7 linked regions of the Homo sapiens genome follow. The protein of the gene in region 2 purifies or fractionates together with the protein of the main gene of each other region. This does not show direct contact. Each region holds a gene or a part of one and is shown on either strand. Other genes may lie near its edges.

Region 1 (3,500 bases), on a different chromosome or scaffold from region 2:
TAATCTGTGACTGTAATTGAGGCGCCAGAGGTCTATACAAATGTTGGCAAGAATTTTATTTAGATAATTATTCTGTTTAGAGCCAAGAACAGTAAAAGAAAAAAAAAATTAAACTCCATAAATTAATAAAAGAAAAATACATTATTCCATAGGAGGAAATCTAAAGAAAACAGCTTCAGATAACTTAGAAGGCAATGTTTTCTTCTCCCCTTCCTTTTCCCCCTTTATTTCTTGTTTTAGGGGAAAATCGTTGCCCAGGGTAAACTGCTCTTGCAGGACACATTCTTGGTCACAGACCAAGATGCAGGACTTCTGCCTCGCTGCAGAGAGAGGCGCATCTTCCTCTTTGAGCAGATCGTCATATTCAGCGAACCACTTGATAAAAAGAAGGGCTTCTCCATGCCGGGATTCCTGTTTAAGAACAGTATCAAGGTAACGTGTGTCTCTGTGTGATTTCTCTGTGCCAGCGCATGTACCCGTCACACCGATACACTGTTTCCTTTTAATGATGACATACCCTGATGCTTCGTTTAAGTATTTGAGAATTTTCTAGTATATTTCAGAGCCTTGAATTCACCCCATTTCTCTTTTTACTGTCTGTGTTCTTGAGTGGCTGATGTCTTGTACACACCTCTGTGTAACCACAGCCATTCATTCTTACCATGATGAGAACTGGTCATGGGTAGTGTTTATGCACCCCCTTCTCTAGGACCGAGGAAAACTGGTTTAAATTTGATAGCACGGATTTGGGGGATTGCTCTATGATCAGAGAAAAAGTTCACTCGGTGTCTTCTTCTCTTCCTCCACTCACCAAGGAGGTACTGAGCACTCAGCAACAGGCGTGAGGGCTCCAGGAATGGCCCAGCTGGATGCCCTCCCTGCCCTGATGTAGCTTATCCTCTAATAGGAAAGGAAGACAGAGGGACAAAGAAAATAATTGCCAATGGCCCTCAAGTCTGTAAAAGGGACAAACCAAGGGTGAGGTAGAGAAGAGCAGAGGGCAGGCCTGAGGTCCCAGCAGATGACTCCTGGGAGATACATGCCCCCGCCAGGGTCCTCCTGGCTCTGCAGCTGTGCAGACCCTGAGGTCAGAAGGGAGATGTACTTCCCTTTGGTAGGGCCTCCTGCCCTACGCCATCAGGGACAGGGAACTCTCAGACCGTGCACACCTGCGGGCCTCACAGCACACAGGCAGAACATTGCGTCCTCCCCCATCCGACTCTCCGTTCAGGCTTTTGTTGGCTGTCCCCAGCAGCCTCCATTTGCCTAAACCTGGGGTGGGTCTGTCCGTGGGCACAGGTGCCAGGCTGGGGGCCTCTGCCCACCAGCACCTAGGAGGGCTCTGGAGCCAAACAGCTGGAGAAGGAGGCCGCCTCTGCATGAGGCTGGGCTGCGGGCCCTCGCACCTCCCACCACCCGCCTGCCCCTCCAGACTCCGCCTTTTGAGGCCCCTCACCCTGAGGCCATGTCAGGCACAGACCCTCTGGGCTCACCACTACACTTGAGCCTCCCATCCCCTGAACTGTGCGCCCATCCCCTGGACGGCAGCCATCATCTGAACTGTGCACCCATGCCCTGAACTGTGCACCCATACGCTGAACTGCACCCATACGCTGAGCCGCACCCATCCCTTGGACTGCAGCCATCATCTGAACTACACCCATCCCCTGCACTGCACCCATCCCCTGAGAACCACCCATCCCCTGCACTGCACCTATCCCCTGAGAACTGCACTCATCCATCCCGGGCACTGCACTCATCCATCCCCTGCACTGCACCCATCCCCTGAGAACTGCCTACCCATTCTTCTCACAAGTCTTTTGGCAGAAAATCACTCCAGCACTGTAGGAATTTCGTATATATTTTTTACATATTTTTATAAAATTATTTGACATATTTTAATCATGATATCACATACAATTTTATAACATAGGTTTTAGTGATATTTGAGATTTGTTTAATGGTGTCATTTACTCCCTGGGAAGTAAGTAAGGATAAATACTGAGGCATCATAGAGGGGTTTGGGAAACAGGTAATCCCAGACGCATATTTCTAGTTAATTGTTCAGGCTGTTAGTTCAAACTATTAGTTTAACAGCCTTGTATTCCCCATGTACCTGAGTTAAGAGGCATTAAAAAGCTTCAGATGTTTTCTGAGGCAGTAAAAATGGCAGTTCAACTGAAAAGTGCTTGTTTCAGGATTGAGTTAGGATGAACTTCACTTTGCACTTGGCCAGTGGGGATCAATGTGCTTTAATTTTTTGTTGTGGTAAAATACACATAACATAAATGTTCCATCTTTAATTACCTAGCTCCATGGGATTAAGAACATTCATGTTTTGCAGCCATCACCATCATCTGTCTTCACAACTCTTCATCTTGCAGAGCTAAAGCCCTGTACCCATTAAACAGTAACTCCCCACTTCCCCACCCCCAAGCCCCTGGCAACCTCCACTCTACTTCCTATCCCCACATTTGACTACTCTAAGGACTTCCTGTAAGTGGAATCATAACAATAGTTGTATTTTGAGACTGGCATATTTCACTTAACATAACGTCTTCAAGGTTCATCCATGTCGTATTGTGTGTCGGAATTTCTTTCCTCATTAAGGCTGAAAAACTGTCCACATAGCCCACATTTTCTTTGTCCATTCATCGGTCAGTGGACACATGGTTTGCTTCCTTTCCACCTGTTAGCTATTATGAATAATGTTTTTTTTTTTTTAAGGTGAGTTGCCTTTGCCTGGAGGAAAATGTGGAAAATGATCCCTGTAAATTTGCTCTGACATCGAGGACGGGTGACGTGGTAGAGACCTTCATTTTGCATTCATCTAGTCCAAGTGTCCGGCAAACTTGGATCCATGAAATCAACCAAATTTTAGAAAACCAGCGCAATTTTTTAAATGGTAATGTGTGTTCTGTTACTAGATGTGTGCTTTCTTTCCTCGTGTACTCACTTGTATTTATCTTCCCTCTCCCATTCATATCCATAGTAATGACAGAACTTAGCACTCACCACTCTTCAGGCACTGCCTAGATATTGCTTTATTTCATCTTCACAACCACCCTGTGTGGCCAGTACTATTATTATTCCTGCTTTACAGATGAGAAAGCTGGGGCACTGAGCGGCTGAGTAATTTGCTTCGAGTCCCACAAGTTGTTGAGGGCAGAGTCAGGACACAGAGTGGCCATCTGGCTCTTGGTCTGTGCCCCTCGCAGCTACACTGTCCCACACATAACATGTACGAGGGCCCAGTCCTAGGAAGAGGAGTTTGCGAGAACACGAGATGGCATTGGCCAGAGACATTCACGAGGGCCTTGCACACCCACACCTCCTTTCCCCATTAAAAAAATAAGAGATGGGGCCAAGCATGGTGGCTCAAGCCTATAATCCCAGCACTTTGGGAGGCCAAGTTGGGCAGATCACCTGAGGTCAGGAGTTTGAGACCAGCCTGACCAACATGGAGAAACCCTGTCTCTACTAAAAATACAAAAAAATTA
Region 2 (4,511 bases):
TTCACAGAATGCATTGACTAGCTTTGCATTCTTCATCATGGAAAAGAGAGTTCCTTTTTATTATAATGATGTGTTGTTCTTCATAAATGAAACTCAGCTGTGAAATTATATGCTATGCTGCCTCTGTCAAGAACCAATCTTCCATCATTTTTTCAAACCTTTCATGGGGATTGGGCAATTAACATTTTTACTTCTTGGGTCAATTTTACTCATTGACATTTTGCTATAACAACATCCATTTTCTCTTGAAATAACTTTGACAGTATAGCATTACATGTATATTCTCAAGAAAATCTGCAAAAGATTCCATTAATGTCTCCTGTATTTGGGGTCTATGGTGTTTACTCATTCCCAATCTTGTACATTTTTATTCCATATCTTTTTCTTCTACAAGATGTTTATCTAGATCATTGGTATTTGCAAAGAACCAGATTTGGGATTTATTTATCTTCTCCACTATTTTTGTTCTGATCTGTTTTCAATTCCATTAATATCCATATCCTACTTGCCTTTGGTTGTATTTTTTTATGTTTTTTGTTTTGTTTGTTTTTTTTTTTGGAGACGGAGTCTCGCTCTGCTGCCCAGGCTGGAGTGCAGTGGTACAATCTTGGCTCACTGCAACCTCCACCTCCCAGGTTCGTACGATTCTCTTGTCTCAGCCTCCCAAATAGCTGGGACTACAGGCGTGTGCCACCACGACTGGCTAATTTTTGTATTATTAGTAGAGATGGGATTTCACCATGTTGGCCAGGCTGATCTCAAACTCCTGACCTCAGGTGATCCACTCTCCTCAGCCTCCCAAAGTGCCGGAATTACAGGCATGAATCACTGCACCCAGCCTGGTTTTATTTTCTTAATCCCTAAAGATGAGTACTGAGCGCTTTGTTTACTGAAAGTATTTAAGCTATGTATTTTCCTCTAAAGTAAAAATTCTGCATTTGCCAATGAAATGTAGATGTTCTTCTCACTGCTTTTTAGGCAATACTATTTTGCCTCAGAGGAAAGAAATGGGATCAGAGGATTGAAAAGAAACTTCCAAGATAAATATTTTTTTCTAAAATCTCAAGCAAAAAATAAGATTAAAATAAATTCTCTCTGCTGATAGCTGAGATGAAAAAAAGAATAAAACATAAATACATTCTCTCTGCTCTGCTATTAATTTTGCATTATCTAAACAATTTAATAAGAATTGGCTGGGCAGGGCCAGGTGCGATGACTGTAATTCCAGAATTTTGGGAGGCCGAAGTAGGTGGATCACCTGAGTTCAGGAGTCTGAGACCAGCCTGGCCAACATGGCAAAACCCCTTCTTTACTAAAAATACAAAAATTAGCCGTGCATAGTGGTGGGTGCCTGTAATCCCAGCTACTCGGGAGGCTGAAGCAGGAGAATCACTTGAACCCAGGAGGCAGAGGTTGCAGTGAGCCGTGATCACGCCACTGCACACCAGCCTGGGCAACAGAGCAAGGCTCCATCTCCAAAAAAAGAAAGAAAGAAAGAATTGGCTGGGCAGCCACGCATGACAGCTCAGGTCTGTAATCCCAGCACTTTGGGAGGCCAAGGCGGGAAGATCATTTGAGCTGACGAGTTCAAGACCAGCCTGGGCAACATGGTGAAACCCCATCTCTCTACAGAAAATAGAAAAATCAGCCCAGCGTGGTGGTGCACACCTGTAGTTCCACTGAGGCAGGAGAATCCCTTGAGCCCAGGAGGCAAAGGTTGCAGTGAGCCAAGATTGCACCACTGCACTCCAGCCTGTGCAACACAGCAAGACCCTGACTTAAAAAAGAAAGAAAGAAAGAAAGAAAGAAAGAAAGAAAGAAAGAAAGAAAGAAAGAAAGAAAGAAAAAGGAAAAGAATTAGTGCATGTAAACAAAGGCTAACAATTTGTCCCAAGGATATTTAGTATCCCGTATAATACAATGCTATCAAAATAGAAAACCCTTAGTATTTTCTTTGCCTAGTTTTACTCAGTTTATTTACTAAGGTAATAAAATCATTCTTTTATTCCTTTATTTGACAAATGTTTATTGAGGGTAGGGCATTCAGATATAGTAGGGTAAGACAATGGGAGTTCTTAGCTACTTCAATTTCTTCTCAAATTGTACACCAAAAGAAAGAAGGCATGTATGCTTCCATTCTTGTCTGATAATTTAATCACAGGAGATGAGTATTAGACATTAGAAAAAAACAGAAAATGGTTGTATATGGAAATGCTATTGTCCAATCCACAGAAGTAGATTTTGCAAAACTAAGACTCCTGTAGAAGCTTGTGACTTACAAGTTGGAAATCACAAAGAGTGCACAAGATTTTATCTGTTTGTCCTTATCTTTGTAATCTTGTATCTGGCAGCTTTTTCCTCTATCTGCCACACTAACTGGACTACTGGAAGTTTTCTCACCAATAATGATGGCAGCAACACCAACTGAAAATTTTTCCAGATGAAAACGACTGCACTCACGCTCTATGATGTACAGCTCCGGTGGCTAAATTGCTCATCTGCATTAAAGTAAATGCAAAACTGCTTCTGGGCTGGGCATGGTGGCTCGCACCTGTAATCCCAGCACTTTAGGAGACTGAGGCGGGAGGACTGCTTGAACCCAGGAGTTCAAGACCAGCCTGGGCAACACGGCAATACCCTGTCTCTACCCCAAAAAAATACAAAAATTACCCAGGCCTGGTGGCATGCCCCTGCAGTCCCAGCTATTCAGGAGGCTGAGGTGGGAGGATCACCTGAGCCCAGGAGGCAGAAGTTGCATGCAGTGAGCTGTGATTGCACCACTGCACTCCCGCCTGAGTGACAGAGCTAGGCCTTGTCTCAAAAACAAAACAAAACTGCTTCTGAAGATATTACCTTTTTTTTTTTGAGACGGAGTCTTGCTCTGTCGCCCAGGCTTGAGTGCAGTGGCGCGATCTCAGCTCACTGCAAGCTCCACCTCCCGGGTTCACGCCATTCTCCTGCCTCAGCCTCCTGAGTAGCTGGGACTACAGGCACCCGCCATCACACCCAGCTAATTTTTTGTATTTCCAGTAGAGATGGGGTTTCACTGTGTTAGCCAGGATGGTCTCGATCTCTTGACCTCGTGATCCGCCCACCTCGGCCTCCCAAAGTGCTGGGATTACAGGCTTGAGCCACCGCGCCGCGCCCGAAGATATTACTTTTAAGGGGAGAATATTTTCGTAGTACAATCTCCAAATTCCAGGTTGAAATTCTGACCCCTTATCCTAATAGAAGATAATCAATCAGCTATTCAAATTTTAATATTAGGAAAAGTATAGGGAACCATGTTATTAGTACAATTTTTTTTTTTTTTGAGACAGAATTTCACTCTGTCGCCCAGGCTGGAGTGCAGTGGCGCAATCTCGGCTCACTTGCAACTTCTCCCTCCCAGGTTCAAGCAATTCTCATGCCTCAGTCACTTGAGTAGCTGGGATTACAAGCATGTGTCACCACATCCAGCTAAATTTTTGTATTTTTAGTAGAGACGGAGTTTCACCGTGTTACCCAGACTGGTCTCAAACTTCTGGCCTCAAGTGATCCACCCACCTCGGCCTCCCAAAGTGCTGGGATTACAGGAGTGAGCCACTGCGCCTGGCCTTAATATAATAATTACACATCAGGACATAGTTGGTAACCTAAGGAGCTTTTAATATTGAGAAACTGCCTGAATTCCATTGCCTAGTCTATTCCAAAAAGTAAAGCTCTTCATAAAAAGTCAGATTCACATTACAGAGAAAAAAAATTATGTCAGAAGGATTGGTAGCTATTTAATAGTTACATATAAGATTAATATGAATGCAGGAGGTCTTCACTAGCAGGTGTCAGAACTGCTCAATATTTTTAACAATAACCTGGATAAAGCTACAGAAGGCAGGCTAGTAAAATATAAACTTAAAATTATAAAAATAAGTTTTTAAAGAAAAATTAAACTATTTTTTAAAATAAGCTAAAATTGGCTGGGCGTGGTGGCTCACACCTGTAATCCCAGCACTTTGCGAGGCCGAGGCCGGTGGATCACCTGAGGTCAGGAGTTCATTACCAGCCTAGCCAACATGGTGAAACCCTGTCTCTACTAAAAACACAAAAAATTAGCAGGGCGTGGTGGTGTGCGTCTGTAGTCCTAGCTAGCTGGGAGGCTGAGGCATGGGAATTGCTGGAACCCGCGAAGAGGAGGTCGAAGTGAGCCAAGATCATGCCACTGCACTCCAGTCTGGGTGACAAGAGCAAAACTCCATCTCAAAAAATAAAAAATAAAAAAAATTAGCTAAAATTAACAGGACGAAATTTAATAATGATGGATGTGATATTCGACATTGGGATTCAAAGAATCAACCATATAAACTGAGACCAAAAAAGGGGGTCAGGTATTTGGATTCTAGACCCTTGAAGAAGTAGCAATTCCTACTCAATTAATCAACAGAACACTAGGTTTCAAGGTTTCAGAATAAAAAGAGTAACCAGTCTTGCTGGGTATGGTGGCTCACACCTGTAATCCCAGCACTCTGGGAGGC
Region 3 (4,511 bases), on a different chromosome or scaffold from region 2:
TTTCCTTCTAGGATGTGAAATACCCTGAGTATCTTGATATTCGGCCATATATGTCTCAACCCAACGGAGAGCCAATTGTCTACGTCTTGTATGCAGTGCTGGTCCACACTGGTTTTAATTGCCATGCTGGCCATTACTTCTGCTACATAAAAGTAAGCTGTGCAGATTTGCTATTAACTATTGTTACATACATGCTATAAGACAGCAGTAGCATTCTTGGGGTAGGGAGAGGTGGAACTTTTACAGTTAAAATGTGAATACCCGAGGTAAAAATATTTCTCTTGGCCGGGCGCAGTGGCTTACTCCTGTAATCCCTACACTTTGGGAGACTGAGGCTGGGGGATCACTTGAGGTCAGGAGTTCAAGACCAACCTGGCCAACAGGGTGAAACCCCGCCTCTATTAAAAATACAAAAATTATCTGCGTGTGGTGGCACCTGCCAGTAATCCCAGCAGCTCCGGAGGCTGAGGCAGGAGAATCGCTTGAACCCAGGAGGTGGAGATTGCAAGATCACGCCACTGCACTCCAGCCTGGGTGACAGAGTGAGACTCCATCTCAAAAAAAAAGAAAGAAATATTTCTCTTGACTATGTTCCATGTTTAATTAAATCTAATCTCTCTCTTTTATTGGCTCTCATTTATAGGCTAGCAATGGCCTCTGGTATCAAATGAATGACTCCATTGTATCTACCAGTGATATTAGATCGGTACTCAGCCAACAAGCCTATGTGCTCTTTTATATCAGGTATTGTCATGAAAACAAATTGCCAGATTTTCTGGTATGTCATTTCTTCTTGTCTTATCAACATGTTTGAATTCAATATTCAGTGTTTTAAAAAAAAAAAAAAACCCAGCAGCTTAAAGATCAACTCTAGCCTGGGCATGGTGCCTCACGCCTATAATCCTAGCACTTTGGGCGGCCAAGATGGAAGGATCACTTGAGCCCAGGAGTTCGAGACCGACCAGCCTGGGCAACATAGTGAGACCACATGTCTACAAAATACGAAAAAATTAGCCAGGTGTGGTGTTGTGGGCCTGTGGTCTTATCTGCTCCGAAAGTTGAGGTGGGAGGATTACCTGAGCCTGGGGAGGCCGAGGCTGCAGTAAGCCATGATTGAGCCACTGCATTCCAGCCTGAGTGACAGAGCAAGACTGTCTCAAAAAAAAACCAAAAACCATCAACTCTGCCATGTGCCTGGAGAGTAAGAAAGGTAGTGTCTGAGCGGGATGATGAGTTTGCTCCGCATCGCACTCTGTGGCCATGAGCACTGAAGGTGCAGCTGCAGGGAGAGGTGGTGGCTGACAAGGGTGGGCTTCTGCTGCGGGCAGTAATGGAGTGGGCCAGGAGCCACAGGACAATGAGTGGAGACCTCAGGAAGGGACCTCTGAGCACCTGGCGTGGTCACAGCCAGCACCTCCCAACCTGGAGCACAGGTCAGTTGCCTTCCAGGCCAAGGCCAGCACCCGCACCCAGCTCTGTCCTGTTGTGGCTGCATACGCTTTTCACTCACTCACTCGCTCCATTTTTGGAAAAAATGTTTGATAGCTGAAAATCAAGAATATTCTCAAATGTCCAACTGGCAGAATGCTCATGTCTGCACATTGAAATATTAAACACTGGCATTGGATTTCGGCAGTTGGGCTGAAGCACAGATGATGATCAGAGGAGGCCTCAGGCCAAGTTGAGGGGTAGGATTTTGTTTCTAACTTTTTTGGACACTAGATTTTCCACAGTGGCATATATTTATAATTAGAAAAATATAAGCCTGGGCAACAAAGCGAGACCCCATTTCTACAGAAAATAAAAAAATGAGCCAGGCGTGGTGGTGCATGTCTGTGGTCCCAGCTACTCAGGAGGCTGAGGCAGGAGGGCAAGGCCACAGTGAGCAATGGCTGTTCCTCTGCAGTCCAGCCTGGGCGACGCAGCAAGACCCTGTCTCAAAAAAAGGAAAATATAAATAAACAGAAAAGAAATACCTTTCAGATGAAACAGCATCTTCAGAAAACACAGTTTAAAGAACGTCATTTACCCAGTTATCCTTGTTGTCTCCTGATCTGAGTGCCTGACATTAGCCTGAAGGAGGGGATGTGTATAGCTCCATACTGTGTAGCATAAACATGCTATTTTTTTCATCAGGTTTCCGCCTGAGGGGTTAAATGCTGTTGACTTTGTAAATGAATCTCTCCTAAGGAGGTGTCCTGTGTCACCCTAAGTATCGCTCTCCTTGTTTCCAGGTCCCATGATGTGAAAAATGGAGGTGAACTTACTCATCCCACCCATAGCCCCGGCCAGTCCTCTCCCCGCCCCGTCATCAGTCAGCGGGTTGTCACCAACAAACAGGCTGCGCCAGGCTTTATCGGACCACAGCTTCCCTCTCACATGATAAAGGTAACAGTCCTTAGGGAGAAGAACATTTTTATGTTAATTTTTAAAATGTAACTTCAAACTCTCAAGTTGAATTGTAGTGGTTGCTGTGTCCTCAAATACATCTGAATTTCTTCTCACAGTTTAATCAAACCCTCTTACACAGTATTTCAAATATACAGAAAACGGCCGAGCGCAGTGGCTCAAGCTTGTAATCCCAGCACTTTGGGAGGCCGAGACAGGTGGATCATTTGAGCTCAGTTGTTTGAGACCACCCTGGGTACCAGGGTGAAACCCCGTCTCCACAAAAAATACAAGTATCAGCCGGGTATGGTGGTGTGTGCTGTGGTCCCAGCTGCTCAGGAGGCTGAGGCAGGAGGATCACTTGAGCCCAGGAGGCAGAGGTTGCAGTGAGCTGAGATTGCACCACTGCACTCCAGCCTGGGCAACAGAGTGAGACCCCGTCTCCAAAATAACCCCCCAAAAAAACAAAAACCCCAAAATATACAGCAAACCTCACCAATGGGGAGGAAAGAGGAAAGCCTGGGTGTCAGCACCTTTAAATTTTAGGTCCCCTCTGGACTTCCATTCTTCTCAAAGGGTTAAACACTTGGAGATTCTTTAATTCCTGTCGGATTGCAGGAAAGCGATCTGTTTACAAGAACACGTTTGTTAGGTCCATTTAGTCGTTTCAGGGGTGTGGTGTTTCTGTCTGCTCTCCCCCTGGGTTTGATTTTACTCCCTGTTGGTCCTGTCGGGGCGAACAGTAGTGAGCTAGTGTCACAAGGAACACAGGATTCTAGAGTGGGGGCCTCATCTGAGCTGTGGCATCTTCACAGCTTTTCGACTTGAGTTTGTTTTGGATGATCACACACACGGTCTAGCTGCATGCTTTATTTTATGGACATCAGGCAGTATATTTGAGGTATAACAGAGTCACACATCAAATGCCCAGCGGGCTCCCCTTTTGGGCTCTGCTCCAGAGTGACATCAGGACTCTGGCAAACAGGAGGGCATGTGCCCTGTAGGAAGGGGTGGTTGGCATTGCTTTTCCAAAGCCTGTTTTTGTTTTTACCATGAAGCTTTCCAGTGTTAGGATGGCAGCTAATTCAGGTATGTGAGGAGACGCTGGGAAGGCCACACGTGATCTGTTAACTGACTTTCACGCCTGCGCCTCCACGGGGGTGCAGCAGCCATGGGGGAACCTGCAGCGAGTCTCACTGCGTGAGGAGAATGTGGAGACGTTGTGGGGCAGTGGTGGGGTCATGGCTGAGTGAGTGGCGGCTGAAGCAGCCCCTACTCTCCGCCCACGTGACCGTCTCCTTTGCTCCGAGGCGAGGGTGATTCCTCCTTCCTGGCACTCTGCATCAGCGAGCTCCCAGGAAACCCAACCAGGTAGCAAGTGTGTGACTCCATGCCACAGGTCCTGCTGATTTCGATCAGATCTGGGACAGAACGAGTTTGGTCGGAGGATTGTTTTCTGTGAAACATGTATGTCCTGTTTGTTGATTTATTGCCAGAAAACTAGGGCCTGTGGAAAGTATGCGCGGGTAGGAGGGATTGAGAAAAACAGAGAACATTTCCAGGTGTATGAAACTTGTTAGTCCTGAAAAAAAAAAAAAGCAAAATGGGAAGGACCCATCAGCCAAAATGGGTTCTGTTTGTGTGACCATGTTTCTGGAGCTCTGACCAGGTGCGCTCTGCTTACTTCCAGAATCCACCTCACTTAAATGGGACTGGACCATTGAAAGACACGCCAAGCAGTTCCATGTCGAGTCCTAACGGGAATTCCAGTGTCAACAGGGCTAGTCCTGTTAATGCTTCAGCTTCTGTCCAAAACTGGTCAGTTAATAGGTCCTCAGTGATCCCAGAACATCCTAAGAAACAAAAAATTACAATCAGTATTCACAACAAGTTGCCTGTTCGCCAGTGTCAGTCTCAACCTAACCTTCATAGTAATTCTTTGGAGAACCCTACCAAGCCCGTTCCCTCTTCTACCATTACCAATTCTGCAGTACAGTCTACCTCGAACGCATCTACGATGTCAGTTTCTAGTAAAGTAACAAAACCGATCCCCCGCAGTGAATCCTGCTCCCAGCCCGTGATGAATGGCAAATCCAAGCTGAACTCCAGCGTGCTGGTGCCCT
Region 4 (4,511 bases), about 31 Mb from region 2:
CTCCCTTTCTTTGGCTTCACGCTCTAGTCGCTGGCGTTCTTTCTCTCTTTCTAATTCTCTGTCAAAACTAGAAGACCCATGGCCCTCCCGATGATGACTTCTACTTCTTGACCTTCTTGGGGACCTCCGTGGACTCAGAGATCTCCTTGGAGACCTAAGGAAGGCGGAGGGAGAAAGAAAATTTCAATGAATAAAACATATGCAATTCTTTTCACAGTAAAACTTTCAACAGCATTATTTATTCATGTCCTCAAGCTTAAGGCCATGTCAAGAATCATTAAAGCAAAAAATTTTATTGTTCTCATTTACAGATGCATAATTTTATAGAAAAAGCCCTGAAAGGAAGAAAATAATCTTTGGGGGGTAAAAGTGACAAACTAATAAAATGAACAGTAAAAACAAATTCCTAAGAACTTGCTATTTCTCAGAACCATTAATTTTGTATAAAGCATATATGAAAAATAAGCATAATTCAAGAGTGACATTACCTTGAACGTCTGCGTTCAACATGTCTGTCTATTTCCTCAGCACCTTCCTTCCCATCTTTCTTGATTTTTCTAGGTCGGGTTTTAATCTGTTGATCAATATTCTTTTGAACTGGAACTGGAATTCTTGGAAACAAGGTAGAAAACCACTCCAGTTTTGTGAGAAAAGATCGTAGCATTTCTCCAATGGTCATTACACAGCCTCCACCAGCCTTCACATCTAGGTCCTACAGAAACACAAAAGATACCCTAGCCGTCAAAAAAAGTATTTCCATATATACATGAATATTATAAAAATATTACCATCTTTGGAATCTCAATACAAAAAAAACTAACAGAAAAATTTTATTTTCATATCCTGATCTGACAATGAATGAACAGAAATATTTGGGCTTAGTGTGTGCATGCAAGTGAGAACAAACCCTGCAGCCTCACAGGCATAAAGGGAACTGATCTCACTCAGTTAACAATATGAAAAAGCCCCTTACATTTCTAAACTATGCGGAACGATTGACTTAAATTTACATTCCACATACCTACTATGTATTTATTTCTGTGGACATATTTGCACACATCATATACCTTGCACCATAACCTAGCTACATATGATCTACTTTAGATAATTCCTGTCTAAAGGTTATCTTTTAACAGCTCTAATATAAAATGAAGCCCTAATAAAACTGGAAGCAATAGCAAACCAACTGCCATGAAGCAGTGAGGTTTCTAATTTAGTTATGTAGAAAATAAATAAATGAACAAATAATTGGAAACGCATAATCCATGATGACCATTGTCTCTGAAAAGGGTCATTACCGCATGAAGGCCTTCTTGCTATGCCCTCTCACAGCTCAGGACATGTTAGTCAGCTATTGTCAGTCCCAAACCTATAGTGCAAGCACACAAGGAAAGTGAGATTTGTTATCTAAACAGGAAAACAAGAGCTAAAGGTAAAACTGCTTGCACTCACACACATTTAAGTGTTCAGATATACAGTATTTCCAAATATAATCGCTGCAGATATCTAAGGAAGAAAACAATAAGTTAGCTTAAATAGAGGACCTCAGATTTGTAAACACAATAAAAAACATAAAATAGAGGCATCCAGAAACAAAACCAATACAACACCAATTATGAAGAGGAACATGCTTTTTTAAAGACAGAAGGGAGAAGCACTTCAGTCTGAAAAACTGATCTAAAGATAAAAAGACCTTAAAGATTGTGATTTAAAACACGTTTTGCTTCTTCTGAGTGAAGTAACTCAGTTAACAGGCAAAAAAAAAAAAAAAAAAAAAGAGAAAAATAAAAATTCTCCATGTCTAAATGAGATTTTTTTTTTTTTTAGGTGTGCATGTAATAACAAAACACAATAGATTTCCATTAGAACCATCCTTTAATTCAATAAATTCTTTGGATGAACTCTGTAAATAGACTACTGACACATAGCACTCAAAAAGTCTTATGAACCTTAAAACACAAAGTAGTAGACTGGGTAGACATAGGGACAATACAGCTCATCATTTCATTTTTGACATGTTGGACTTCACCATGCAAGTAAATTAATGCATATATGATATTTTGTTTTGTTTTGAGAAAGGGTCTTACTGTGTTACCCAGGCTGGAATGCAGTGGCAATGATCTTGGCTCACAGCAAATTCTGTCTCCTGGGCTCAAGTGATCCTCCCACCCCAGCCTCCCAAGTAGGTGGGACTAAGATGCATACCTCTATGCTCAGCTAATTTTTAAACTTTTTTTTGTAGAGATGAGGTCTCACTATATTGCTCAGGCTGGTCTTGAACTCTCGAAGTGTTGGGATTACAATGTGAGCCACCACGCCCAGCCAATGCATACACGATTTAAATCTAACTTAGTATTTCAGATTTCAAATTAGGGAGACTCGAATTACAATTTAAAAAATTTCTTTTTTAAAGGTGTGTGTGGTGTACTAGGAGTCAGAAAACTGGAATTAAAATTTTGTCACCTTGAACAAGTCATCCAAACACTTAGCCTATTTATGTAACACCCAACTCTTCAATTCTGCACTTCTATGCAAGTGGGAATACTGATATTTGGAAGAAGCTAGAGGGTGAAGAACTGAAATGTTCCAGAAGAAAAAAAAGCTACAATTAGTATTCTATGTGCATATCTTTTATTATCTGTTCGATCTTGAGCATGCCCCATCTTGAAAAGTCACTATTAACTATACAATTCAGGATCAATACAATACACAGAACATAATTAAGAAGAGAAAATTTTCCAATAGTTACCAAACACATTTAAACAATTTTAAAACAAGAAAATAAAACTTCAGAAATTTACCCTAAAATACATAAAAGCCATCAGGTCTCAGTAAAAGGACATTAATTCCAAAAGTATCTCACTGAAATAAATTTAACTACAGGAAGTTCTTGAAGACATTAAACCACCAATAAATAAAAGATAATAAAAATATGAGAGTAATCAGAAGAAAACAAATTATTACCCTTGTTGACATACCTCTTCATCATCAAGGAAGGATTCAAACCAGTCCCACAGATCTGTAGGGGGCTGTGTATATCTAGAATTACAAAAGACTATTATTAAACACATGTGAATTAAAATGAGATATTTACTGGAAATGTACATAAATGTACGCTCACCTTATATACATAAATCCAAGCGCTCTAATATATGGAGAGTCTGTGTGTGTTATAAGACCCATCACTTGCTTTCGAGTTAACTTCAGGGTAAATAATTTGTATAACAGGCAAAATGCTGTAGAAACAATTCCTCCTGTTCCAACACCTCGAACCTTTAGGGGAAACGAGTTAAGAAAAAGTAGTAAAATAATTAACGGACTCTTAACACCAATTGATTAATCCTGTTAGGTATCAATAACAATCCATAATCCAGAACTAAGGAGCATTAAAAAGTAACACTTTTCTAACCCTATTTCACTGAACACTTGAATTTGGATTAAAAAAATTGTCACTCAAGTGTATAATTGACAGGCCTCTAGTTCTCTAAATATAAACTTAGTTATTAGACACAGAAAAACTGAAAAATGCACGTACTTCTACTTACCCCTCCGCACATCCCTGTCTGGCCCGCTGTTTTCCTGCTTCCTTTCTCCCATGGTTCAACGTGCGTGACCTGAAAATAGAAAAGAGGAACACAACAAACATTCATACTTTGAATTTGTTTAAAAGCCTGATAAAAGTAAACCCAAGTCCATAATAGAGCAGCTCTTCCAAAATTATTTTGGCATTAAGTATATGTTTACTGATATTAAGTGTGTAAATCATTTTTGGAAAAACTGCTTAGACATTTAGACAGCACCCATAAAGCTACTAGGGTTTAACAAAACCTTAATAGCTTTGCAGAGGAGAAATCCCACTCAACTAGCTTTATAAAGAGCTGATATCTACATCTGGGAGTCAGAAAATTTCTATAGTCTCACTTGGTTGCAAAAACTATTTGGTAATATTTTAACTTTGATAATATTTGACAATTTAACTTATGGGTTGCTTAACATTTTCCTTTAAAAATGGATTTAAGTCTCCAATTTAAAGCAAAAAGTATTAACGTTAAGCATTAATTTAAAAACTTCAAAACACCTTCAATAGTTCAATTTTATTGTAATTTAAAATCTACATTATAAAATTAAGGAAAATTACTTGAAGAAAATTTTCTAAAACAGTAACGAGTTACTTGTGATGCAAAATTATGGAACTTTTTATTTGTACATTTTTTCCACCAGGGTCAGGTTTATTCCTGATTAAAGATAAAATTACAAAGGCCACACTTACAGAGATCATTGTTGTAATTAAGCTTCAGCCTAATTATGTGTGAACCAATCCAATTATTCCCCAGAATATAAATTGTGTCAAAAACTGAGTGTGAATAGTCACTGGCATATACTAAGTATCATCAAAGATGATACAGTATCATATTTGCTAAGAGGAACATCTTACAAAAACTAGTCCTTATCTAAAAATAGCAACAACAACAGCAACAACAACAAAAGAATATTAACTCTAAAATAGAATC
Region 5 (4,511 bases), on a different chromosome or scaffold from region 2:
AAAAAGGATGAGTTCATATCCTTTGTAGGGACATGGATGAAGCTGGAAACCATCATTCTGAGCAACTATTGCAAGGACAGAAAACCAAACACCGCATGTTCTCACTCACAGGTAGGAATTGAACAATGAGAACACTTGGACACAGGAAGGGGAACACCACACACCGAGGCCTGTTGTGGGGTGGGGGGAGGGATAGCATTGGGAGAAACACCCAGTATAAATGATGAGTTAATGGGTGCAGCAAACCAACACAGCACATGTATACATATGTAGCAAACCTGCACGTTGTGCAAATGTACCCTAGAACTTAAAGTATAATAATTTAAAAAAAAAGCACTGTTGAATGGCTGAGCAGTGCAGGGTAGTGAAGGGAGCTATTTCAAATGTGACTGGGATGTTTTCTGAGGCTGCAGATCTTTCTAGTTATGCTATATAAAACACACAGAAAGCAGTTTATATGATTTATCCCAGATTCTGTGTCTTATTCAAAAGATAACTGAAACCTTTTAATCAAATTATGTCATGAAACAGCTATTTCTATTACAGTCAATCTTTATTTTATATTATCTTACAAAAAGATTAATAATGTCTACCCCCTCTTAATAAAAATAAGACATATGGTAGTTGCCGGACCAATTAATTTTTAGTAGTTTATATCTATTTCCTAAAATACATAGAAAACTTTTGACCAAGTGGGCTATCAAAATCAATGACATTAGCTGTAAATAATTTTACATTATTTACTTCTAGAGGCCAAACACCAGAGTTCAATACACACATTAAAAAGAAAAATAAGTTTTATAGCATTATTAACTTAAAAATAACTTATTATTTAAAAATATATTACAATGAATAATTAAAAGTTAAATCATTAAAAAGTACATATTGATTTCTCTTGTTTTATAACATAAATAGTTATATTAGTTATATTAAATCTAAATCATTTTAATCTTGAATGCTTTCAATAACCTATTATACAAGACATATTTCTTAGTTTATTCTGAGTGGATTTTATAACAGTCCCTAAAGTACAAATTCTTACTTTTACTTGAATTTAGAAATGAAGTCAGGATTTTTCTGATGAAAAGCAACTCATGTCTCTGATTTGAATATGAAAATTGGTTTTTCCAATGAAGCTAGAGGGCAGATATTTTCTATATAAATTGAATGAGGTAAATCTGCAGCTCCAGAGTTTCAAAAATGTGCCAGTGTGTGTATTCGTGTACAAAAACATGAGGCAGAATCACATTATTTTTTAAGGATAAAGAATTGGCATAGGTGTATTGAGTACTAACAATGTTTTATGTTTCCAGTTCTTTCTGATCCATTGGATTAAACGTGGTGCTCCTAAAGGACAGAATAAGTTGTATAAGCATGGCCATTTGATCAGTCTTGGTAAAGCCTTATTGAAAAATTTTCCAGAAATTTGGAAGATAATGACTTTACTGACTAGGAAACAAGTTCTTTTTGCAAGTCAGATGGTTTTTAATTTTTGCTTTCAAAAAAAGAAGGATTTGAATTGTCAGCTGACAGATGGTTAAACATGATCTTTAATGGTGAGTCATTATGTGATTTTGACATGTAATCATTCACCTAAGAAAATATGTGTTGAGTGTGGGGTACTTTGTAGGCACAAAACAAAACAAATATCCCTGCCCTTAAGAAGCAGAGAGAGACAAATAACAAACACAACAAATAAGTTGTGTCAATCATGCAGCATGTTAGAAACAGTAAGCACTATGGAAGAAAGAAAAAGCAGAAAAACTGGAAAGGCATTCCGAGAACTAAATAACACTGGGCTTGCAAAACTCCTTCCATTAAAATCTACTTCTATAATTAAAGTTTCCCAGCACTCACCTAAGAATGGAAAACACACAGGACTAGAATCCTATCTCAGCTCAATAAGAATCAATATTCATACATGGATAACTAAGCCACTTAGAAAAAAATCTGCCCCATTCAACTCATTAGGAAAAGTATTTTCAATTTTTTTTCATTTTTTATGTTTAATACTTATTTAACAAAATTAGCAATACATTTCGTTGTTTGGATAACTCAACCCAAAATAAGTCTTTTGACATTTAAAAACTTATGATCACAAAAGGTAAACTTTCTTTTTTTCTTTCTTTTTTTTTTTTTAGACAGAATCTTGCTCTGTCACCCAGACTGGAGTGCGGTGGCTTGATCTCAGCTCACTGCAACCTCTGCCTCCCAGGTTCAAGACATTCTAATGCCTCAGCCTCTGAGTAGCTGGGAACACAGACGCACGCCACCATGCCCGGCTAATTTTTTATATTTTTTGTAGAGACAGGGTTTCGCCATGTTGGCCAGCTGGCCTCGAACTCTTGAGCTCAAATGATCCACGTGCCTCAGCCTCCCGAAGTGCTGGGATTACAGGCCACAAGAAGTAAACTTTCTAAGGTTTCGAGATACATGCATATTTTGTGATAGGGTGATCAATAAAAGACTTAGAGGCATAAAAATATATTATAACAAAATTATGTGGGGAAAGTGGGATGAAAATTGGAGTCCAAACAGGAAAAGGATCAAGGTAAAAGTTATGATTTTTAAAGCAGAGCCCATTCATTGGCTTTTTAGATGAAGGGTGATGGGCGCTAACCTGCTGCAGCACCTGGATGCAATTGGGTACATCTCAATGAGTGATGTGGCTATTACAATTTTAAATGGGAACACACATAATACGTTTGAAATTACACCCTTTGAAACTACTTACACTTATGATTAAAAGGTTGTAGTTTCAATTTTTTAACTGTGAAATGTTTTAATTGTGAAGAGTTTTTTAAAATCATTTTAGAGAGCCTATGAGAAAAGCTTCAGCGTATACAATGATGCTTAAGACATATACACTGTGCATCTTCTAGAAACTCACAGTTTAACAGGAAGGCAAATGCACTGAAAATTCTAATTCAACAATGACATATGATTAGCATTTCTTATGATATATCATAAGAGAGATGCAAAAACCTGGCATGAGGACCCACAGGTGGAAGAGATGGGTGATAAAATCAGTTTTAAAATACTCCTAGTAAATGCAGCTAATATTTATTGTACCCCTTACTACATGCTAAACACTGTGCTAAATTCTTAGCACAAATTATTTCATTTAATCCCCACGACAGCCCTATGAAGTAGATTCTATTATTATTCCAATTTTATAGATGAGGCAAAAGACATGAAAATACTTGGCCAAGGTCAAAATGCTAGTTACTAGTGAAGCTAGGATTCAAATCCAAGCCTTCTGACATAGGGAAAACAATGCCTTACATTTGTGTAGCACTTGGATTCTTTTCAAAGCTGCTAATACACTACTGTCTGGCTGGCATTATCCTCTCAATAGCTCTTTTAGGTAGCAAGGCAAGTATCAGTATTTAGTTTTCATAAATACTAAAACTAAAGTTCACAGAGGACACAGAGACTCATCTGTGGTTGCTCAACTAGTTCATGGTGATTCAGGAGCACAAAGCCACTCCAGTCTGAAAGGCCCAGAGATAGCACTGCCCCTGGACGCCTCCATGTGGGACTTCAGGACTGTGTCTGGCAGCCCCCTGTTCTTTCCAGACCCTGCTTGCATCTCTAGTTGGGCTCCAGTTCCCATCTTAATTCCACCTATCTCAGTTCACACCATATTTGTTTCTTCTTGTTGGTGGCTATCTGAAACTGTTCTTTAAGCCTGTCCTCACAATCTGTGTGCTCTCTGAGGTCAGGGACCGTGTCTCCTCCTTCCTTAGGTTCTCCATGCAGGGCTTGGGCCAGGGTTCTGCTTTGAAGGAATTTCAGAATAGGGATGGGCAGGTAGATTGAATATGGAGCAAGAGAAAGAACTCAGCTCTGACGACCTCCAGCCACTTGAATTGTGGAAGAAGCCACCTGTCCCTAGAAATCCTGGCATCTGGAAGCAAACTTCCAAAATATCAGGTCACACTGAGCCTTGATTTATTACTGTCTCATATTCAGCTCAACTTGGAGGAGGACACAACCTCTGGTTCCATCTCATTCTCAATCATCCTCAAACATTCTCAATTATTCTCTTTAAAGCCAGGATTCAGCAGCACAGCCATGATTCAACATGGAATAAGTTTTTTAAATTCTTTTTTTTAGATTTAAAATTTGCCCTGGAATTGGTGGGGTGTCTTACATTCTGGGAACTGCCATGGAAAACTTCACTCAGGAGGAACTACAAAGGCATTTGGGTTGTCCATCTGGTTTTGATACAACTCTCTTTCCCCCATTCCTTCATTTTCAGTGCTAGAAATTGAGCACACATTTCCTCGACAGTTTGGAGAACCGGTGTAGGTAGATCTATTCTTTTCCTAGTTCCATTCTGTCTGGATGTTCCTCCCTCCCCCGGTATCAGCAAGGATCTCAGAAGCAAAAATGCCATCTCCAAACGAAAACCTCATTTGAAATCAGATCCTCCAGGGCCATATTCCCTGCCACTCACTCACCTCTTCTTGTAGTCCTCCACCAAATCCTGCATGTTCCTCAGCTCC
Region 6 (4,511 bases), on a different chromosome or scaffold from region 2:
GCCACAGTTACTCCAAGGGTGTAAGCCTTCCTCACAGGTTAGAAATGTCTCTCCGACACTCCCGTCTTTCCTTTATAACCTGTCTCTCAGGAGGAATTTAACCCCTCCTGTACCCCATTTGCAAACTGCAATAGCTGTGTTCAGGATACCATGCCATTAGCTTTGTCCCTGAAGTGACATATGTATCAAGGCTCTAGAGAGAACTCTGGTACGAATCTCCTTACAGTGGACTTGGTGAGCAAGTCCACTTTATGGATTAACTCAACCTGGATCATATCCTCTCTCTCAGCAAAAATTAAATCACCAAGACCAGCAATATAGCTTACTTCCTTATAGTTGCCAAACAGCCTCCCGATTCAGAACCATTTTCCACTTTTTGTAAAACAAAGTAATGAAGAGTGCCAGCTGAATCCCACTTGTCTGTGTCTAAATCCTGCCTACACCACCATCTCTGGTACCTACTTTCAAAGATATAATCCTGCCCCCTACCCAGCATCATAGAACAATCTAGAGCCTTGTTTCGAATAGTCACACTCCTTCCTCCAGGAACAGTCACCAGCCCCTGCACTTAAACTTCCAGAGGATCTTGACTGACATATTCCTGAAGAGTTATGTGTCAAAGGAACTGTGGCACCCTTGAACAAAACTTCAACATCCTTAGGGGACCCCACTCAGTAACAGACTGAATAGTGAATTTTTTTAAAAAAGAGAGAACATTCCTTCATCACGATTATAAAACCATTTCTCCCATACCAAATTATGATTCTTGCCATTTTAATTTTCAGAGGTGGGGTTAGCATACAATGAGATATACCTGTATCTTGGGATCTGGCCCCACCACCAGGACCAGACCAGTTGTTGGGTATAAGGGGGCTGGAGGGATTCATTTGTGGCTGTTGCTGGGGTATTATTGAGGCCTCTTAACTTGCTAACCTCTGGATTCTCCCCATGCTGACATTTGATCTTTTTTTTTTTTTTTTTTTTTTTTGAGACAGAATCTTGCTCTGTCGCCAGGCTGGAGTGCAGTGGCGTGATCTTGGCTCACTGCAACCTCTGCCTCCTGGGTTCAAGTGATTCTCCTGCCTCAGCCTCCCAAGTAGCTGGGACTACAGGCACGCGCCACCACGCCCAGCTAATTTTTGTATTTTTGGTAGAGATGGGGTTTCACCATGTTGGCCAGGATGGTCTCGATCTCTTGATCTCGTGATCCACCCACCTTGGCCTCCGAAAGTCCTGGGATTACAGGCGTGAGCCACCGTGCCTGGCCTTGTTCATTCTTTCTAAACACTGCTCCACACAGATCACTCCACCCCTGCACAGAAACCTTCAATAGCTCCCCATTGTCTATGGAATAAAGTTCAAGGCCCTCCACCTGGCCTTCAAAGCCTTCCACAATCTGCCTCATGGCTTTCTTTTCCTCTAGGAACTCACACTAACCCTTTAGGTCTAGATCACGAGTCCACCCATAGGCTGGCACCTTCAGTGAAGATTTGCTGTTGCATTGAGTTTGACTGATCCCAAGTCCTCAATATGCAGATCAAGAGATCTAAAGTTCTACTCAGATAATTAGAGGTCACTTGGCTGTGAATCATGGCACTTGAGAACTGAAAGGTTGTCGCCTTTGCCTAGTCCAATACCATCAATTTGAAAAGAAAGACTCTGAGGAACAGAGAAGTAGGGTACTTGCTTCTGGTCACAGACTCAAACTCAGACTATGGTCAGTGGCTGAACTGACACTAAGAACCCAAAGGCCAAAGGGTTTCTGGAGTACAGAAGAAATCAGTCTTTGGTTTTCTCAGGCTTTCTCAGGCTTCAAGCACCTACCCATGCAGAACATGAATCCTCTTTTTAGAGAGCTTTAGAAAGTCTGGTAGCCCTTTCCCCACAGAACCAGACAAGACACTGAGCAGCCTACAGGGTGCTCTCTGCCAGTGTACCCTAGGACCCAGGTGGTCTAAGGCCTGCAGAAGAGAGAGCAGAGGAGCTGGGTGAGGGAGCTGTGGCAGTGGTAGAAGAGGAGGTGGTTGTGATTCTGTACTTTGCAGGCCCAAATGTGGACTGCAGACTCAGTCTGTAATAGGGTGGAGGTGAGCCAATGAAGTGTCTGTTTTTGCAGCGTGTGTGGTAATAAGAGCCAAACCTTGTAGGCTTAGCCTCACTGCCTCTGTTATTCAGGCTGGACAAGCACAAGCCCCATGGCAGTGACAGGTGAGGTTGTTAAAGAGGACATCTAGACATGCACAGAATCTCCCCAGACCAGTGACAGAATCTCAGGTTTGGAAGGGACCTTGACAGTCATTAAGCCCCAATTCTGACCAAAGCTTCAGTCCTCTTAACAATGTCCCTATTCATGCCTTTGTTGAATGGCCACAGTTACAAGACAGGAAGCTCCACTGCCATTGCAACCATTGCAACGTGCTTTCTGCCTGTGTGGGTCCTCTCATCTACTGGCACCTGCTGGGTATCCCCATGGGTAAGGTCCTGAATGCTACATCTTTTTAAACCTCTTCTCCATCAAAACCTACTTGACCTGCGTCTCATCAGGGTACCATTTCCTGTGGTAGCTCTTCTCCAAAAGTAGCTCCAACAAGCCATGCCTTTTGACACTCATGGCTTCGTGTAGTTTCCTCCCACAATGAGCCAGGGCTGGCCTGTAACATGCTCTAACCAACAAGATGGGGCAGAAGTGATGCTCTGCCAATCTGGGGACAAAGCCTTCAGAAGGCCTGGCAGCTTCCACTTTAGTGCTTCTGGGAGCCCTAAACTGCCACGTAAGATGTCTGGCTACCCTAGAGACACCATATGGAGAGGGAGAGTCTCTGAGTCTCCATAGAGTGAGAGAACAGTCCTGTTGTCCCAGCATGCCAACTGAGTCCAGGGTTCCAGCCACCTGCCACAAGGTCCCAGACGTGTGTGAGCTATCCTGATCACCCCAGCCTAGTCTGGCCCCCAGATGACTGCAGCCCAGCTGACATCACATGGAGTACAAGACCCACCCACTGAACCCACAGAACCCTGGGAGATAATCATCAAAGCCCTATGTTATAGGTGGTTTGTTAGACAGCAATAGATAACTACAGTAGTTACTATGAGCACTTTGGCACAGACTAGTTCCTCATTGGTTTGGGTGGTGTCATTTGGCAGAGATGCTTGACTCTTGGGTGATGAAACCTCCTAGAGACAGTGTCCTAACCCAAAGGTGTCCCCTAGTAGTGGGACACCAGGCACCATGCAGGGCCAGCAGGAGATATTTCTGAGTACTGGATCCTCTCAATGCCCCAATCTCATCTCACAGGCTACATACTTAAATTTTTTAAGGACATCCATTTTTCCTGCATCACAAGGGCCATGAGCTATCTCCCTTATACCCGTAGACAAAGGGGAGGCAGATTCCCACCCAGTGGGGGCAAGAAGGAAGTAAACACAATTAAGGATACCATTTTTGAGACTCAGGTTCTCACGAATCTCCTCATGGTCGCAGGGATGAGTGAAGTCAAAGATACTATGTCCTGTTAGCTCCACCTGTTTCAAAAACAAGGTTAGGCATCATTATTCCTAACAGTGAAGTAAAAGACTCCAAGAGTAAGCTGAGCCACCTTCCAGATTTGGAGGCAGGGAGGAGACTGAATTGGGTTTTCTCATAATCCCAGTCCAGTGTCAGGTCCACAGACAGAAAGATGTAATCGGGGACTACTGATGATGACAGAGACTTGGTCTGTTAATGAGTCAGTAGAGAGCTGTCTACCAGGATGGACATGAGCAAAGCCAAACCCAATGCTTGGGGGTGGGAGCGTGGCCTGAGGCGTGTGGCCTGAGGTCAGCGAGGGTCACCGTGGGCATTTGCAGGGAGAGGTCAAGTGGGATTGTGGCTAGCACCTTCCACTCATTTCTACCCCCAAATGGAAACATTTCTTCTTTTGAAAGAGATAGAGGAGGGTGTCACCTGTGTAAGTCCCATGAACTTGCTGATGTTTTCTGACAGAAAGATCATGTCGCCATCTTGGGTCACCACGGCAATGAAACCCTCCAAGGCTTTCAGGTACAAGTTGTCCATCTGCTGGTCAGCTTCGGCTTCGGACTCGTTTTCAGAGCAAACTGGAAAGGGGGGGGGGTGGGACAGCTTGCATGAATGTGGAGTGAAAACAGATGGGACTGGCACAGATAGGCATTTGCCAGGGATGGTGCAAAGGCATTGGGTGGACTTTTCTGGAAACGCATACTGCCAACCATCTGAATGTCTGCCTCCGCCTGGCAGCAGGCACCACTGCACAGAGGACACCCTGACGGGAGCTGTGAGGACAGTGTGCTTGTTGTGACAACAGTACTTCTGGCACTAGTAATGAGAGCAGTAGGAGCTGCTGTGTGAGTGGTTCAGGGTGGAAGTTTTCCCAAGCTGCCCCCAGCAACCACCTGTACAGCCTATAGACTCAGCTCTTGTCCCAGACCACAAAAACCTTTTAGGCCCCAGGCCTTTGGCTGTTATACACAGACCATAGACTTTATTTCAGCCC
Region 7 (4,511 bases), on a different chromosome or scaffold from region 2:
GTATATACACACATATAGTGTGTATATAGTATGTATATACACACATATAGTGTGTATATAGTATGTATATACACACATATAGTGTGTATATAGTATGTATATACACACATATAGTGTGTATATAGTATGTATATACACACATATAGTGTGTATATAGTATGTATATACACACATATAGTGTGTATATAGTATGTATATACACACATATAGTGTGTATATAGTATGTATATACACACATATAGTGTGTATATAGTATGTATATACACACATATAGTGTGTATATGTGTATATACACACATTTAAAAAACAAAAATATACATCTATAAGAATATATTTTATATATATGGAGGAGTGTGTATATATAGTGTGTATGTGTATATGTATATACACACGTATATACACATGCATATAGTCTGTATACGTATATATAGGTTAAAAAACAAAAATATACATAAAATATTTTTATATATGTATAAAATATATAGAGAGAGTGAGAGAAAAGGAGGGGAGGGGAGGGGAGGGGAGGGGAGGGGAGGGGAGGGGACGGGAGAGGAGAGGAGAGGAGAGGAGAGGAGAGGAGAGGAGAGGAGAGGAGACGAGAGGAGACGAGAGGAGAGGAGAGGAGAGGAGAGGAGAGGAGAGGAGAGGAGAGGAGAGGAGAGGAGAGGAGAGGAGAGGAGTCTGAAACTAAAATCCCAGATCATCTTATCATGGGAGGCAGAGAGAGTTGAAGAGAGAAAGATTGGGAAGGATCCTGTTTCTAGTCTTCTCTAAGAGGACAGACACCTATTAACTCCAGAGGTCAGTCCAAAACCAATTTAAGGATGATCATAAGAATAGAAGATGTACAACTTTGAAATCACTAAGGAGAGATAAAGATGAGATGGGAAAACAAGGAGAGAAACAGAAAACTTATTAACTGATAAATCTAATAAATAGCGTAAAAGGAAAAGAAGAATCAGAAAGCATGATGGAGGGGCAAAATACGTAGGAAGAATAAGCCCAAACATATAAATAAATACAACAAATATGAATGTATTAATAACAGATTGAGTAAAACCACAAAATCTAGCTATGTGTTTCTAAGAGCCATATCAAAAATTAAATGTCATAGAAAGTATAAAAATTAAAAAAAACAGGCATATACAGTAACATTGCTAGCAAATAAATTTCAAAGCAAAAAACATTAAATGTGGTAGCAATATTCCATTCTGAATAAACCTATAGTTCATGAGATGTAACAGTCACAAATCTTCAAGTACCTAATTATCAGCTGGAAAAGTACAAGGCTTTAAAATAAGCTTCATCAATAAGACACTGATTAGACTAAATTACAGCCCATCCATACAATTAAATTTTATGCAGACAATATAAAGAATAAAAAATTAGAAATCTATATGTAATAATTTGGAAAGAGATCCAGAAGACTGAAACAAATAAAGCAAGTTTCAAATAGTTGCAGAGCCTGATCCCTTGTGTATACATTTTTAAAATAATAAACATATACATACAAGGTGACATAACTGTAAATTTACTTTCTGGAAGCAACATATAAGAAACTTTTTCAAGTGAGACTTGAGAGGCATCTTTTACTTTTTGTTCTTTTTTTATACTGTGAGTTTTTTGGTGTTTTTTTGGTTTGCTTGTTTTTGAGACAGATAGGATCTTGTTCTGTCGCCCAGGCTGGAGTGCAGCGGCATGATCTCGGCTCACTGCAACCTCCACCTCCTGGGTTCAGGCAATTCTCCTGTCTCAGCCTCCTGGGTAGCTGGGATTACAGGTGAGCACCACCATGCTCAGCTAATTTTTGTATTTTTAGTAGAGACGGGGTTTCACCATGTTAGCCAGGCTGGTCACAAACTCCTGGCCTCAGGTGAACGACGGCTCCTGGCCTATGCTGTGAGTTTTCTAACCAAGTGTTCAAAGAACATATAAACTAACAAAAACAGAATCATTTTATCTTCAATTTTTTTCAATTGTGACTTCTAGGTTTCATGATCTATTTAGAAAGAATTTCCATCACTCTAATGCTCTGCAAGATTTCCCCATGTTTTCTTCTGGTGCTTTTACAGTTTTTTACTTTTTTTGACATTTAAGTCTATGATAAATCTGTAATTTATCTGGGTATAGGAGTGAGAAGTGGGACTACAGCTTCCTTCACACATATTGAATTACTGGCAGTTGTCATAATATCATTTGTTAGATAATTAATCAATTTTACCCTACCATTTGAAATGTCACCTTTACCACAAACTAAATTCTAACCATGTTTTGGTGGATTTCAGACCTTATTCTGTGCTATTCCTACATCAAAAGCAAACTGTTTAATTTCCACAGCTTTATAATGTATTCTAGTGAGGCTTAATCAGTCTTTTCCAGAAGAAAGGTTATCTTCCATATGACCTCTATTATAATTTTGTCAAAATTATAAAGTCCATATGAATTAACCACGTAGTCCCAAAGTAGCAGATACGTAAATGTTCTTCTTTCATGATTATATCATGCTAAGAAGTTTATCTAACAAGCTTTTGTGCTTTCAGGATTAGAAAATAAAGAAATTTAGCTCTTGATCCACACAACTGATAATCAATGCTTTGGTCCATTTTCAGTGAGGAGGGAGTGGGGAAACATATCTATGCTTAGGGAACAGCTATGTCAGTATAAAGTGGTCATTTTGAAGTCACCATTGTCACCTCATCTTGTACCAGTCCTTCCCATTTGCTATGCCCTAATTGTGTGGGCCTTTGCCTCATTTCCTGAATACACCAAAGTTGGTCCTGCCTTAGGACTGTGCACACTTAGTGTTCACTTTGCCTGGAATGCTCTCTTTCTGATCCTTGGATGGCATTTCATTCAAAACTCTGCTCAAATAAGTTTTCAAAAAATAACGAATCTAAAGTAGTTGTATTACTCTCCTAAGACAGTGTCACATATCCCTGCTTTAATTTTTATAGCACTTCTTGCCATCTGAAAGTACTAATTTTACTAGTTTGCTTATTGTCTGTGTCACATGTTAAAATATAACTCCATGAGAATCCGGAATTTGCTGACTTGCTCACTGTTGTATTCCCAATGCCTACCAAAGGACAGTCACTCAACACTTAACTGAATGAAGGCATGAACAATGGACACTTAGAAAATTTTACACTAATCAGTGGTAGGATAGGTAACAGTAACAAGAGAGGAGGTTGACAATAGAATCAAAGTGTATACTTATACTCACCTGCAAAACGTTCGGATATAATCCTGGTTGATTCTGATGAAGCCAGCACACTGTTGGAAGGATTTTGGGCCCAGCCCTTTCACTTTCTTCAGCTGTTCTCGGTTGATAAAGGGTCCATTTTTCTCTCGCCATTCAATAATATTTTTGGCCCTGTTGGCATTGAGTCCTGCAATATGCCTAGAAAAAAAAAATAAGCAAACTGAAAAAAAGATCTCATCTGAAAAGACAATGATATAAAACATTTGGATCATAAAAACGACTGCAATGACATATCCTCATACGGCTAAGTTAAGTTAATCCAAAAGGGAGTTTAAAAAAAAAAACAAAAAAAAAACGGAGAAAAAAAGAGTTGTGCAAGAGGAAAGAAGGACAACAGAATAAAAAAATAATGACAAAACCAACAGCTGTCATAAAGATGCTGGTAAGAAGGCTAACACTGATGCAAGAAAAAAATGTTCCTTAGTTTTTCTATACTATTCACATTCCTTATGTTTCTGGATAAAGTAATAATTTTGCCTATTTTTTTCAGCATACATACAAAGTGAGTTAGAAGAAGTTATAATAGCTACAACTGTGTTGTACTACCTTTTTTGTGTGTTAGCCTGTTCTCAGTAATATAGAGCTGAACTACAGAAAGGCCCTTATCTATAATTGTCATGGTTAGTATAAATTATATACAAAGACTATATCATTAGGTAGTTTGCTTGGTGTCAAAAGATTATTTCAGAGAATCTCAACTCTATTATAAAATTCCATATATGAAATTATGAAATGTTTGTAGATGTGTTAGAAAATCAACAACTTAAAATGTAAGGGACAGTTTCTGCTATACCTGTTTCAGTGAAAACGGTCCAGATCAGGGAATTTCATGCTGCATTAGCAGACTTGTGTAATAAATGCAAAACTGTGAACAAAAAAGCAGCTCTTCTAAAACCATGGGGGAAAAGAAGATTATATAACATGCGATTATAGTATGATAAAAATTTTGACAGGTTTCTTGTGGAATCAGGGTAAAAATATGGTAACCATACCTTGAACCCTCAGAATTTATCTTTTGGTTACTGCCAGGTTTGACAGATGCATGCAAGAGGCTTAACTAGTGAAAAATCTCTACTCTCACGTGGTGGGAAACAGCTCTTTTCCATGTTAACCTTATTTAAATTCTATTAGCAACACTAATACACTCAATGGTTACCATATGCTCTTCACTTTAGACCTGCAATATTAAAAATGATAATGTGAATTGTTATAATTCTTTTCTTAAATGATGTCTTCCCCTCTGATTACT

Evidence for each region.
Region 1: the proteins of USP33 (region 2) and TRIO purify together in Homo sapiens (co-immunoprecipitation; one large-scale study listed by IntAct). This does not show direct contact.
Region 3: the proteins of USP33 (region 2) and USP42 purify together in Homo sapiens (co-immunoprecipitation; one large-scale study listed by IntAct). This does not show direct contact.
Region 4: the proteins of USP33 (region 2) and PRPF38B purify together in Homo sapiens (affinity purification with mass spectrometry; one large-scale study listed by BioGRID and IntAct). This does not show direct contact.
Region 5: the proteins of USP33 (region 2) and KRT72 purify together in Homo sapiens (affinity purification with mass spectrometry, with the first as the bait; one large-scale study listed by BioGRID). This does not show direct contact.
Region 6: the proteins of USP33 (region 2) and EPAS1 purify together in Homo sapiens (affinity purification with western blotting; one study listed by BioGRID). This does not show direct contact.
Region 7: the proteins of USP33 (region 2) and SRBD1 purify together in Homo sapiens (co-immunoprecipitation; one large-scale study listed by IntAct). This does not show direct contact.

What each region holds. Positions count from the first base shown.
Region 1 is NC_000005.10:14,482,342-14,485,841, forward strand, and holds part of TRIO (triple functional domain protein), read left to right. Parts: intron 1-240; coding exon 241-432; intron 433-2,727; coding exon 2,728-2,905; intron 2,906-3,500. UniProt on the Homo sapiens protein: Guanine nucleotide exchange factor (GEF) for RHOA and RAC1 GTPases. Involved in coordinating actin remodeling, which is necessary for cell migration and growth. Plays a key role in the regulation of neurite outgrowth and lamellipodia formation.
Region 2 is NC_000001.11:77,748,842-77,753,352, forward strand, and holds part of USP33 (ubiquitin carboxyl-terminal hydrolase 33), read right to left. Parts: intron 1-4,511. UniProt on the Homo sapiens protein: Deubiquitinating enzyme involved in various processes such as centrosome duplication, cellular migration and beta-2 adrenergic receptor/ADRB2 recycling.
Region 3 is NC_000007.14:6,145,505-6,150,015, forward strand, and holds part of USP42 (ubiquitin carboxyl-terminal hydrolase 42), read left to right. Parts: intron 1-11; coding exon 12-152; intron 153-643; coding exon 644-744; intron 745-2,234; coding exon 2,235-2,388; intron 2,389-4,078; coding exon 4,079-4,511. UniProt on the Homo sapiens protein: Deubiquitinating enzyme which may play an important role during spermatogenesis.
Region 4 is NC_000001.11:108,694,805-108,699,315, reverse strand, and holds part of PRPF38B (pre-mRNA-splicing factor 38B), read right to left. Parts: intron 3,615-4,511; coding exon 3,546-3,614; exon of another isoform or gene 3,536-3,545; intron 3,274-3,535; coding exon 3,122-3,273; intron 3,040-3,121; coding exon 2,979-3,039; coding exon of another isoform or gene 2,965-2,978; intron 1,756-2,964; exon of another isoform or gene 1,507-1,755; coding exon of another isoform or gene 1,467-1,506; exon of another isoform or gene 1,459-1,466; coding exon of another isoform or gene 1,453-1,458; exon of another isoform or gene 1,299-1,452; intron 713-1,298; coding exon 489-712; intron 155-488; coding exon 1-154. UniProt on the Homo sapiens protein: May be required for pre-mRNA splicing.
Region 5 is NC_000012.12:52,594,432-52,598,942, forward strand, and holds part of KRT72 (keratin, type II cytoskeletal 72), read right to left. Parts: coding exon 4,467-4,511; intron 1-4,466. UniProt on the Homo sapiens protein: Has a role in hair formation. Specific component of keratin intermediate filaments in the inner root sheath (IRS) of the hair follicle.
Region 6 is NC_000002.12:46,355,735-46,360,245, reverse strand, and holds part of EPAS1 (endothelial PAS domain-containing protein 1), read right to left. Parts: intron 4,096-4,511; coding exon 3,944-4,095; intron 3,523-3,943; coding exon 3,438-3,522; intron 1-3,437.
Region 7 is NC_000002.12:45,415,142-45,419,652, forward strand, and holds part of SRBD1 (S1 RNA-binding domain-containing protein 1), read right to left. Parts: intron 3,401-4,511; coding exon 3,224-3,400; intron 1-3,223.